3 linked regions of the Homo sapiens genome follow. The protein of the gene in region 2 purifies or fractionates together with the protein of the main gene of each other region. This does not show direct contact. Each region holds a gene or a part of one and is shown on either strand. Other genes may lie near its edges.

Region 1 (2,594 bases), on a different chromosome or scaffold from region 2:
GAGGGGCCCGGCTGCCAGCGAAGAGAGTGGGGTCAATAGCTAAGGCCAAACCCCCCAGCGACAAGCCCCCTGGCGACAGGCACCCAGGGCCCTCCAGCCCAAGTCCGCCTCTAGGTGTTCTTGTTGGTGTGCTGGCACAGAGCCTCCAATGGGGCAGAACGGCCACCCCCGGGACCAGTCATACACAGATCCTGGCAACTAACACCACTGCCGTTTCCACCGACCAAGTCTTGGGGTGGTCTGTCATGCAGCAAGAGACCATGGACGTAACTGGATTCCTGCCTCACTCAGACACGGTGGTGGGAGAATGGTGAAGCAGTCAATGCTGAGGTCTTTGCTGGGGCTGATGGCGCTGGGAGGGGCCCCCTCAGCCTCTGAAGAAAAAGCAAACCCCACCCGGCCCTAACACCAATTCAACCCAACCTCACCTGGGAGGCTGCTTCCTTGTGGATCTCTTTCCACCAACCGGAGTTCCTCAGTGTCCAGCCTGGAGGCAGCGTCAGGCTGGGAAAGCTGATACCCTGAGTGGGGTTAAAAACCAAAGAAATAAAAGGCATCAACACAGAGTGGCTGATGGGTGTTGTGTGTCGTGGGCCAGCCAGGGCAGGCTGCAGCCCACCTCCTCTTCTCTGTACTGGGACCCCCACCAAGGCCACCTCCCTGTTAGGCCCCTGGACAGTGGAGCAAAGAAGAAGGCGAGGCTGGAAGGGCAACGGGGCAGGCGGAGGCAGGACTCAGAGAAAGCAAAGCTAAAGAAAGACATTGACAAAAATTGCTCAGGAGTCTGAGTCGGGGGGCCTCCCTAAAAGGAGGGTTTCTGGGGCAAGAACGTCTACAAAAGAGGAGACCCTTGATCAGGCCATGCAGGTGAGGCCCTGTATCTGGCAAGGAGGGTGGCAATGTGGGCGCCTTGGGGCCAGGAGGCCTTTCCAAATTCCGAGGCTTCAGTCCTACAGGCAGGGCCTGGGCAGAACTCAGATGTTTAGATCAGAAAGGGTGGGGGCTTCAGCGAATAAATTCAAGCTCCAACACGTGCAAGTTCAAATCCTGTAAGACATCACAGTGTCCCAGCCAAAGTCCCTGGGGTCACAGTCTCCTGCACCAACCCCTGCGGAAGGGGATGGGGAGTGGGGCGTGACCCCGAGGCAGGCGACTCTCACCCCACAGGAGCAGCTTCCGGTAGCTCTTCAGGTTCTCCTCGGCAGGGTCCAGGTGGCCCCACTCCCCCAGGTGCTGAGGGTCCTCTGGAAAGGACTTCAGCTTCTGAAACATTAGTCGTGGCTGAGACCTCCCACCTGCCCTAGAGAAGGGAGGACCCGCCGCAGCCCCACAGCCACAGGAGCAGGCTAGGAGCCAGCCCTGGCCAGGGACTCTAACCCAGGTGCACTGCAGGAGGCAGCCCCCTTCGCACCACAAAGATTCCGCCCTCACGCTCCCACCAGGGTGGGTTCTGGGCCTCAGCGCTGTGGACGTTTGGGGCCACAGCCCTCTGCTGAGCACTGGTGATGGGGAGGGGGATGCCTCTAAGCTGAGGCCAAGGCCCCTCACCCACCTGCTCGTGCCCACCCACCTGCTCGGTGTTGGCAGGGCCGTCCTCTTCGGTCTTTGCTTCTCTGACCCTCCTCTGTTCCAGAAACAGGGGGTCCGGAGAAAGCCAGGCTGGGGAGAAGGAGAGGCAGAGCTGAGGCAATGAGCTCCCTGTGGCCAGGTGCCCTCAAGGGTCAAGGAGCCCCCGCTGCCTCCCACACAGGCCCCAGTGTGCTTCTGTGACAGCAGCACCCAAGGCTCAACGGACACTACACCTTTCCCTGATTTACAAAGCAGCGCGGTGGCCACAGGGCTTGGGTGGCCCCAGAGATGCCCATTCAAGTCCACTGGATTCATGGAAATCTTTTTTTTTTTTGGTTTGTTTGTTTTTTAAAGACAGGGTCTTGCTCTGTCACCTAGGCTGGAGTGCAGTGGCATGATCTTGGCTCACTGCAACCTCCACCTCCTGGACTCAAGCAATCCTCCCACCTCAGCCTCCCAAGTAGCTGGGACTAAAAGTGCGGACCCGGCTAATTTTTGTATTTTTTGTAGAGATGGGGTCTCCCTATGTTGCCCAGGCTGGTCTCGAATGCCCGGGCTCAAGTGATCTGCCCGCCTTGGCTTCCCAAAGTGCTGCGATTACAGGCATGAGGCACTGTGCCTGGCCTTCGTGGAAATCCTAAAAAGCAACACCACATAGTGCTGGGCTGTATCCAGGCCAGTGGGCACCTTCCGTGCTGGTAATGAACAGCCACAAAACTTCTGGAAAACCACATGGAAGTTTCTATTTTATGTGAAATGTCGAACTCACACACCACTTGCCCAGTGGTCCTGAGGAGTCCACCCACAGTGCCCAGAGCCTCACATATGGGCACACAAGTCAGGAGGTGTCAGGGCAGCTTCACTCCAAGGGGCAGAGAGCCCACCTCTAGGATGGGGATGGGCTGAGCACGCGATGCTGGGCAACTAAAGAACCAGACCCAACCACAGCCTGGGGGACCCACCCCTCGAACAGCAAGCACTCAGACACAGCACACCACACACACAGAGCCCGACCCCAGGCCCTG
Region 2 (3,656 bases):
TATGCCCTAAACTCCAACTTTTCTCCTATCTTTTTTCGGATGTTCTGACACAATGACAAACTGAGGCAAGACATTAAGCACTATATCATCTGCCAGTCTGTTTATAGGTGTACCCTCAATTCTTGAATGTTCTAACTTCTAGCAGCAGAATAACAAAAGGCAACCCTGGGCTTGGCCAGCTCAAACAGGAAGAAAGCAAGGTGCTAAGTACCCAGCCAGCATAGGCTCAGGCTGTGAAAGGCAAGGCCATGCTAGAGAAAAAGGGAGAAGATGGACCTGGTCTGGAGGCCTAACCAGCAGTCTGACAATGCATAGTGAAACTCCATGGGAAAAGATGACATGAACTTAGTTGAAAGAGGTTGGCAAATGCAAAATCAGGGCTGTAAAATGCAAGGGGAATAACCTTTAACTCCATGAAAACCAAAACTTGGATAGGGTCACACATCAAGATGATGATGATGCCAGGATCAGTGACAGCTCCTACTCAACTGCTAGGCTAATGGCCTCTAAAGTGGACTTTGCCATCCTTTGACCATCAGAGCCAAGGGAGTCTTACCAAGTCTGTTTGGGAACAGCACTGGCAGGTCTAGTTTCCTGACTTCCTGGCCAGGATTCCTGAAGTCCTTTTCATCCCTGTCTGCACCATCCACAGTGCCATCTTCTACCTCCGTGGGTTCCCCATTCTGGTGATTCAGCTCTCCAGCCTCAATATCACTTCCTTCTTGGCCAGGAACAGCATCGCTTGCCATAGGAGGTGCAGAGGCCCAGGAGCCTGAAAGAGCATTCATTTCCTCATAAAAGATACAAGGCTCAGGCACACGGCCTCTCCTCACTTTGCGGTAACTCAACTGTAGGCTTTTGAACTTGGTGCGACACTGTTCTGGGGTCCGCAGAAAACCCTGCTCCCAGAGTCCTTCCGCCATGGCCCTGTAGATCTGGCTGTTCTGCTGACAGGTCTGGAGTTTTCCATAAAATTGAGAACTACTAAGAATAGCCAGGAGCGTCTTGGTCTCTTCATAGCCCCAGGGCACACCTGTTGCTGGGGGACAAAGAATAGGTCAATTAGATCTGTCAGTTAGATCATGGAGGACTGTACATACTGCAGTGTGCAGTTTTGGCAGCTTAAAAAGTTACATCCTAGGCTGGATGCGGTGGCTCACACCTGTAATCCCAGCACTTTGGGAGGCCAAGGCGGGCAGATCATGAGGTCAAGAGATCGAGACCATCCTGGCCAACATGGTGAAACCCCGTCTCTACTAAAAATACAACAAAAAATAGCTGGGTGTGGTGCCGTGTGCCTGTAGTCCCAGCTACTCAGGAGGCTGAGGAAGAAGAATCACTTGAACCCAGGAGGCAGAGGTTGCAGTGAGCTGAGATTGTGCCACTGCACTCCAGCCTGATGACAGAGAGAGAATGCCATGCTCATGGGTAGGAAAAATCAATATCGTGAAAATGGCCATACTGCTCAAGGTAATTTATAGATTCAATGCCATCCCCATCAAGCTACCAATGACTTTCTTCACAGAATTGGAAAAAACTACTTTAAAGTTTATATGGAACCAAAAAAGAGCCCGCATTGCCAAGTCAATCCTAAGCCAAAAGAACAAAGCTGGAGGCATCACGCTACCTGACTTCAAACTATACTACAAGGCTACAGTAACCAAAACAGCATGGTACTGGTACAAAAACAGAGAAATAGACCAATGGAACAGCACAGAGCCCTCAGAAATAATGCCGCATATCTACAACCATCTGATCTTTGACAAACCTGACAAAAACAAGCAATGGGGAAAGGATTCCCTATTTAATAAATGGTGCTGGGAAACCTGGCTAGCCATATGTAGAAAGCTGAAACTGGATCCCTTCCTTACACCTTATACAAAAATTAATTCAAGAAGGATTAAAGACTTAAACGTTAGACCTAAAACCATAAAAACCCTAGAAGAAAACCTAGGCATTACCATTCAGGACATAGGCATGGGCAAGGACTTCATGTCTAAAACACCAAAAGCAATGGCAACCAAAGCCAAAATTGACAAATGGGATCTAATTAAACCAAAGAGCTTCTGCACAGCAAAAGAAACTACCATCAGAGTGAACAGGCAACCTACAGAATGGGAGAAAATTTTTGCAATCTACTCATCTGACAAAGGGCTAATATCCAGAATCTACAATGAACTCTAACAAATTTACAAGAAAAAAACAACCCCATCAAAAAGTGGGCAAAGGATATGAACAGACACTTCTCAAAAGAAGACATTTATGCAGCCAAAAGACACATGAAAAAATGCTCATCATCACTGGCCATCAGAGAAATGCAAATCAAAACTACAATGAGATACCATCTCACACCAGTTAGAATGGCAATCATTAAAAAGTCAGGAAACAACAGGTGCTGGAGAGGATGTGGAGAAATAGGAACACTTTTACACTGTTGGTGGGACTGTAAACTAGTTCAACCATTGTGGAAGTCAGTGTCGCGATTCCTCAGGGATCTAGAACCAGAAATACCATTTGACCCAGCAATCCCATTACTAGGTGTATACCCAAAGGATTATAAATCATGCTGCTATAAAGACACATGCACACGTATGTTTATTGCGGCACTATTCACAACAGCAAAGACTTGGAACCAAGCCAAATGTCCAACAATGATAGACTGGATTAAGAAAATGTGGCATGTATACACCATGGAATACTATGCAACCATAAAAAATGATGAGTTCATGTCCTTTGTAGGGACATGGATGAAGCTGGAAACCATCATTCTCAGCAAACTATTGCGAGGACAAAAAACCAAATACCACATGTTGTCACTCATAGGTTGTAACTGAACAGTGAGAACACATGGACACAGGTAGGGGAACATCACACACGGAGGCCTGTTGTGGGGTGGGGAGAGAGGGGAGGGATAGCATTTGGAGATATACCTAATGTTAAATGACGAGTTCATGGGTGCAGCACACCAACATGGCACATGTATACATATGTAACTAACCTGCACTTTGTGCACATGTACCTTAAAGCTTAAAGTATAAAAAAAAAAAAAAAAAAAGTTACATCCTGGTTTCTCAAACCGTGCCACAACTGGCTATTGTTATTTCTAGGAAGAAATCTCACTGTGGCTTTTTGTCTAAAACATGAAAACTTTTAGTATAATACAAAAGACATTCCCTCCACTGATAATGACTTATAGGGTTATTTACTAAAGCTGCCTATTTAATTTCTCGTTAATTATCCTCAATCCTACTCATTCCTCCTGGAGAGGTGGCTGGCAATAAGGGTAGTGGCTTGCCTGCCTTGACAGTTGTGGGACTTCCTGAGGGTGGCCACATAAGAGGACACAGTGAACAGGTGATACTCAAGGAAAGCAAAGATTCAGGGGACAGAGGAGCTGGTTGTAACGATATATCTGCCTGTTCCCTCCCTGATACAGGAATACCTCCTCAGCCAGCCCATCTCTATCTGTTTATATCTCCTGTCATCCTTGTAGATACAGGAAACTAAATGACAGCAGTTAACACACCAAGGTAAGAATAAGTAGTAAACATCTGAGAAGAGCAGTTCAGGATGGCTGGCTACTAAATAACCCTCACCACACACACCTGCTGCCCATCTGGGCCAGTTCATGAGGACCGATTTGACTAGAGCTGTCC
Region 3 (3,656 bases), on a different chromosome or scaffold from region 2:
ATATGTATACACACACATACATACACATATGCAGTATTTTTTTTTCCTGAATCTATTTGAGAGTCAGTTGCAAACACTATATCCCTTTACCTCACTGTTGACCAGGCTGGAGTGCAGTGGTACGATCATAGCATCATTGCAGCCTTGAACTGCAATGGTGGAAGGCTCAAGCAATCCTCCCACCTCAGGCTCCTGAGTAGATGGGACTACAGGTGCATGCCACCATGCCTGGCTAATTTATTTTTAATTTTTTGTAGCGGGGGTGGGGTCTCACTATATTGCCCAGGCTGATCTTGAACTCCTGGCCTCAAGTGATCATGCTGCCTTGGCCTCCCAAAGTGTTGGGATTACAGGCATGAGCCACTGCACCTGGCTATTCGGTGTGTATTTCTGAAGAGTGAGGATATTCTCTTGTATCACAAGAATACAAAAATCAAGTTTAGGGAAATTAAACTTACGATACTATCATATAACCTTAGTCCTTATTCATATTTTGCCATGTTATCCTAATAATGTTCTTTATGATAATTTTCCTGTGATTCAGGATACAAGCCAGCATCACATATTGCACTTAGTTGCCATATCTCTAGTCTGTGAATCTGGAGTAGCTGCTGTCTTTGTCATGACGTTGTTATTTTTGAAGAGTACAGCTAGTTTTTTTGGAGACTATCCCTCAATTTGAGTTTGTCCTATATTTTCTCATGATTCAGGCTGCACATTTTGGCTAGAATACCACAGAGGTAATGTTGTGTTCTCAGTGCGTTACTTCAGGAGGTGCGTAGTGATGATTTGTCCCATTACTGATGAGGTTATGGTGGTACCTGTCAATTTTCTCCACTAGAAAGTTACCATTTTCCCCTTTGTAATTACTAAGTAATCTGTGGGAGACATTTTGAGGTGGTGTACATATCCTGTTCCTCATTAAATTTTCACCAGCTAGTTTAAACATCCACTTGTTTGTTGTTTTTGTTTTTCTGGGCTGGGATCCTTTGCCTGTCTTTTCTGCCTTGTTTGCTGCTGTATCCCCAGCATGTAGAACAGTGCCAGGCTCTTAGCATGCAGTCCATATATGCATGCCCTTTCAAAATAAATCTTTTGTTTCCAGGCCTCTGTCTATATTCAGGGACAGGACATGCACCCAATGGTGGCAGAATATCAAGGAGTCTCTTTGGAGTGTCAGAGCCTCCAGCTCCTGCCTGGGATAACCACCCTGAAGTGTGAACCTCCACAGCGTCCTCAAGGGAACCCCCAAGAAGTGAGTGGTGAGTGCTCGAGTGAGTTTAGTGAGGACGCTGGGAGCTGGCCACTGACACTTGCACAGCCTTCTTGACCTCAAGTTTGTATACATTGTGAAATGATTACCACAAGCTAACTTACATATCTCACAGTTACCTTTTATGTGTCTGTGGTAAGAATTCCTAAGATCTACTCTCATGAAATTTCAAGTATACAATATATTATTATTACTAACTATAGTCAGCATTCTGTACGTAGGTCTTCAGAGCTTATTCATCTTATAACTGCAAGTTTATACCCTGTGACCAACATCAAGTTTTATTTTTTTGTCTAACCCTGTATCTGAACAAACTTGTAAAGACCTGCTTTATTTTACACTGTGCATTTTAAGCTGGTTTATTTAGTATGTATGTGTTGTGGACAAGTACATATAATAGTAAAAGTGAATCGGGGCAAGGCTGTTTTTTTCCAGCAAACTTTATTCCTTCTAGAAATGCAACAACAGCAATAAAAACATTCCATAGTGATCCATTATGGAAGCAAAGAAAAGCAGAGCAAAGAAAAGTGATGTTCTGTTTTATATTTTTGGGTTAGAATTACCACATGTGCTCTTCATTTGATAATTTTGTACTCTGCCATCTGCCAACTGCCAACTTTGTGACCTAGGCAAGTCATTTAATAGGTTATTCAGTTAATCAACAATTATCTGTTTGATCTCTGTGTGTACTCTGCACTCAGCTGTGATTCTTCTGAATGTGCCTAGGATTTTGGAGGCAATAATTTGGACCTTCTTGATTATTTTGAGGATTGGAAATAATCTTTTAAAGTAACAGCACAGTGGCTGGCCTTGTGCAGTCATCATCACCATTTTGATTATTGTTGGTTCTTTGGGATCAGTACCTCCTAACAGTTTTTCTAGTTCATGGCTAACATCTCTTCTCTATTTTTTTAAATATCTTTATTTTCCTGTCTCTCTCTCCATCTTCCTTTCTTCTGCTTTCCTGTTTCCCCTCAGTCTCATCTCTCTACTCTCTACATCCTTTCTTTTGCCTCTGTGTTCTCTCCTTGATCCTTCCTTTATCACCAGCTTCTTCCTCCCCTTTATTTTTGTCTATGATTTTTATTTTTTCTTTATGTGAAAGTGCATGACTGTAAAGCACCTTATGAGTTCATAAATCCCACTCCATTTTTTGGGTGAGAGACCCTAAAGTTGTAGAATTTTAGAATTTCTGACAGAATGAAAGCAGTTGTGATGCTCTTTCTCACACTGTAAAATCTACGTCTTAGTTCTTGAATGTTTAACAAACATAACATTTGGGGGAAAAGGCTGGGTCTCCAAAAAGGGTACCCTAAAGGCCATCATGTCTCATTTAGGACTCTTGCCCTCTCTCTCTGCAGGGCCTGTTCCCCACGGATCAGCTCATCTCCAGGAAAAAAACCCCAGAGACAAGGCTGTAGTGCCTGTGTTTAACCCAGTCAGGTCCCAGGTAAGTAGGATGCCCAAGCTTGTAGGAATATCAGTAGTGGTCTTTCTCCCTCATTCCATGTTCCTTGCCCTTCTCTTGGCTCACACTCATCATCGTGAGAGCCATTCAGGTGGCATAGTCCCTCTGCCTTCACCTTGTCACAGAATATCACAAAGTGTGTTGCATCATTCGAGGAGCTTGTATTGATTATATGCCATTGCCTCATTTCATTGTTCAGGAGGCACGTCCAAATCTCAAGGCATGGGAGTGAGGGGTGGAGTGAGGCTCCTGGTTTCAGAAAGTGCTCCACTCATTTGATGTTGAGTAACTGATATTTTCTCCTTTGAAGTCTCTGGTTTATCTCCCCAGCTTTAGAATAAGGGCCCTTTCTCACACTACTTTATATTCAGCATGTATGCAATTAATGCTTGGTGATAATAATGGAAATTCTATATATCTAAGGTAATACTTAACATCTTCTTCACAAAATGGACTCTGGTTTTTTTTCTTATTAGTGGTTCATTCATTTTCCTAGTCATTTATTTACAAAAAAAAAATAACTCTCTCATTTAAGTCCTCTTGCATACTGCTGCCACATCAGTTTCCTCAAGACACTTGCTCAGTCCTCTTCTATGGCTTCTAATTAATTTTTAATTCTATCAGACCCAGTGCCTCCTGTTATTAACAAATACTTCCTGATAAGAAGTATCTAGAAAATAAAACCTACTCATGCACATTCTGAAAATCAACATAATTCCCTTAAATGTAATTTAATGGTATAATGTAGAAACAAAAAAGTTATTTATTTTAAAAGTAGTGTTTCAAAATGCAAGTGCTTGATGTGATTATAACTAGGGAAATAACAACGTAGTCAGGTGTTTGCACTGAAATATAATTAGTAAGTTCAAATTAAGGAGGAATAAGAAGACCAGAAGCCCAAGAAAATCAAAGAGC

Evidence for each region.
Region 1: the proteins of ZSCAN32 (region 2) and ZSCAN18 purify together in Homo sapiens (affinity purification with mass spectrometry; 3 studies listed by BioGRID and IntAct, with this or other methods). This does not show direct contact.
Region 3: the proteins of ZSCAN32 (region 2) and PGBD1 purify together in Homo sapiens (affinity purification with mass spectrometry; 3 studies listed by BioGRID and IntAct, with this or other methods). This does not show direct contact.

The regions. Positions count from the first base shown.
Region 1 is NC_000019.10:58,085,746-58,088,339, forward strand, and holds part of ZSCAN18 (zinc finger and SCAN domain-containing protein 18), read right to left. Parts: intron 1,660-2,594; coding exon 1,571-1,659; intron 1,264-1,570; coding exon 1,161-1,263; intron 522-1,160; coding exon 429-521; intron 1-428. UniProt on the Homo sapiens protein: May be involved in transcriptional regulation.
Region 2 is NC_000016.10:3,383,903-3,387,558, forward strand, and holds part of ZSCAN32 (zinc finger and SCAN domain-containing protein 32), read right to left. Parts: intron 1,040-3,656; coding exon 557-1,039; intron 1-556.
Region 3 is NC_000006.12:28,284,446-28,288,101, forward strand, and holds part of PGBD1 (piggyBac transposable element-derived protein 1), read left to right. Parts: intron 1-1,105; coding exon 1,106-1,262; intron 1,263-2,634; coding exon 2,635-2,723; intron 2,724-3,656.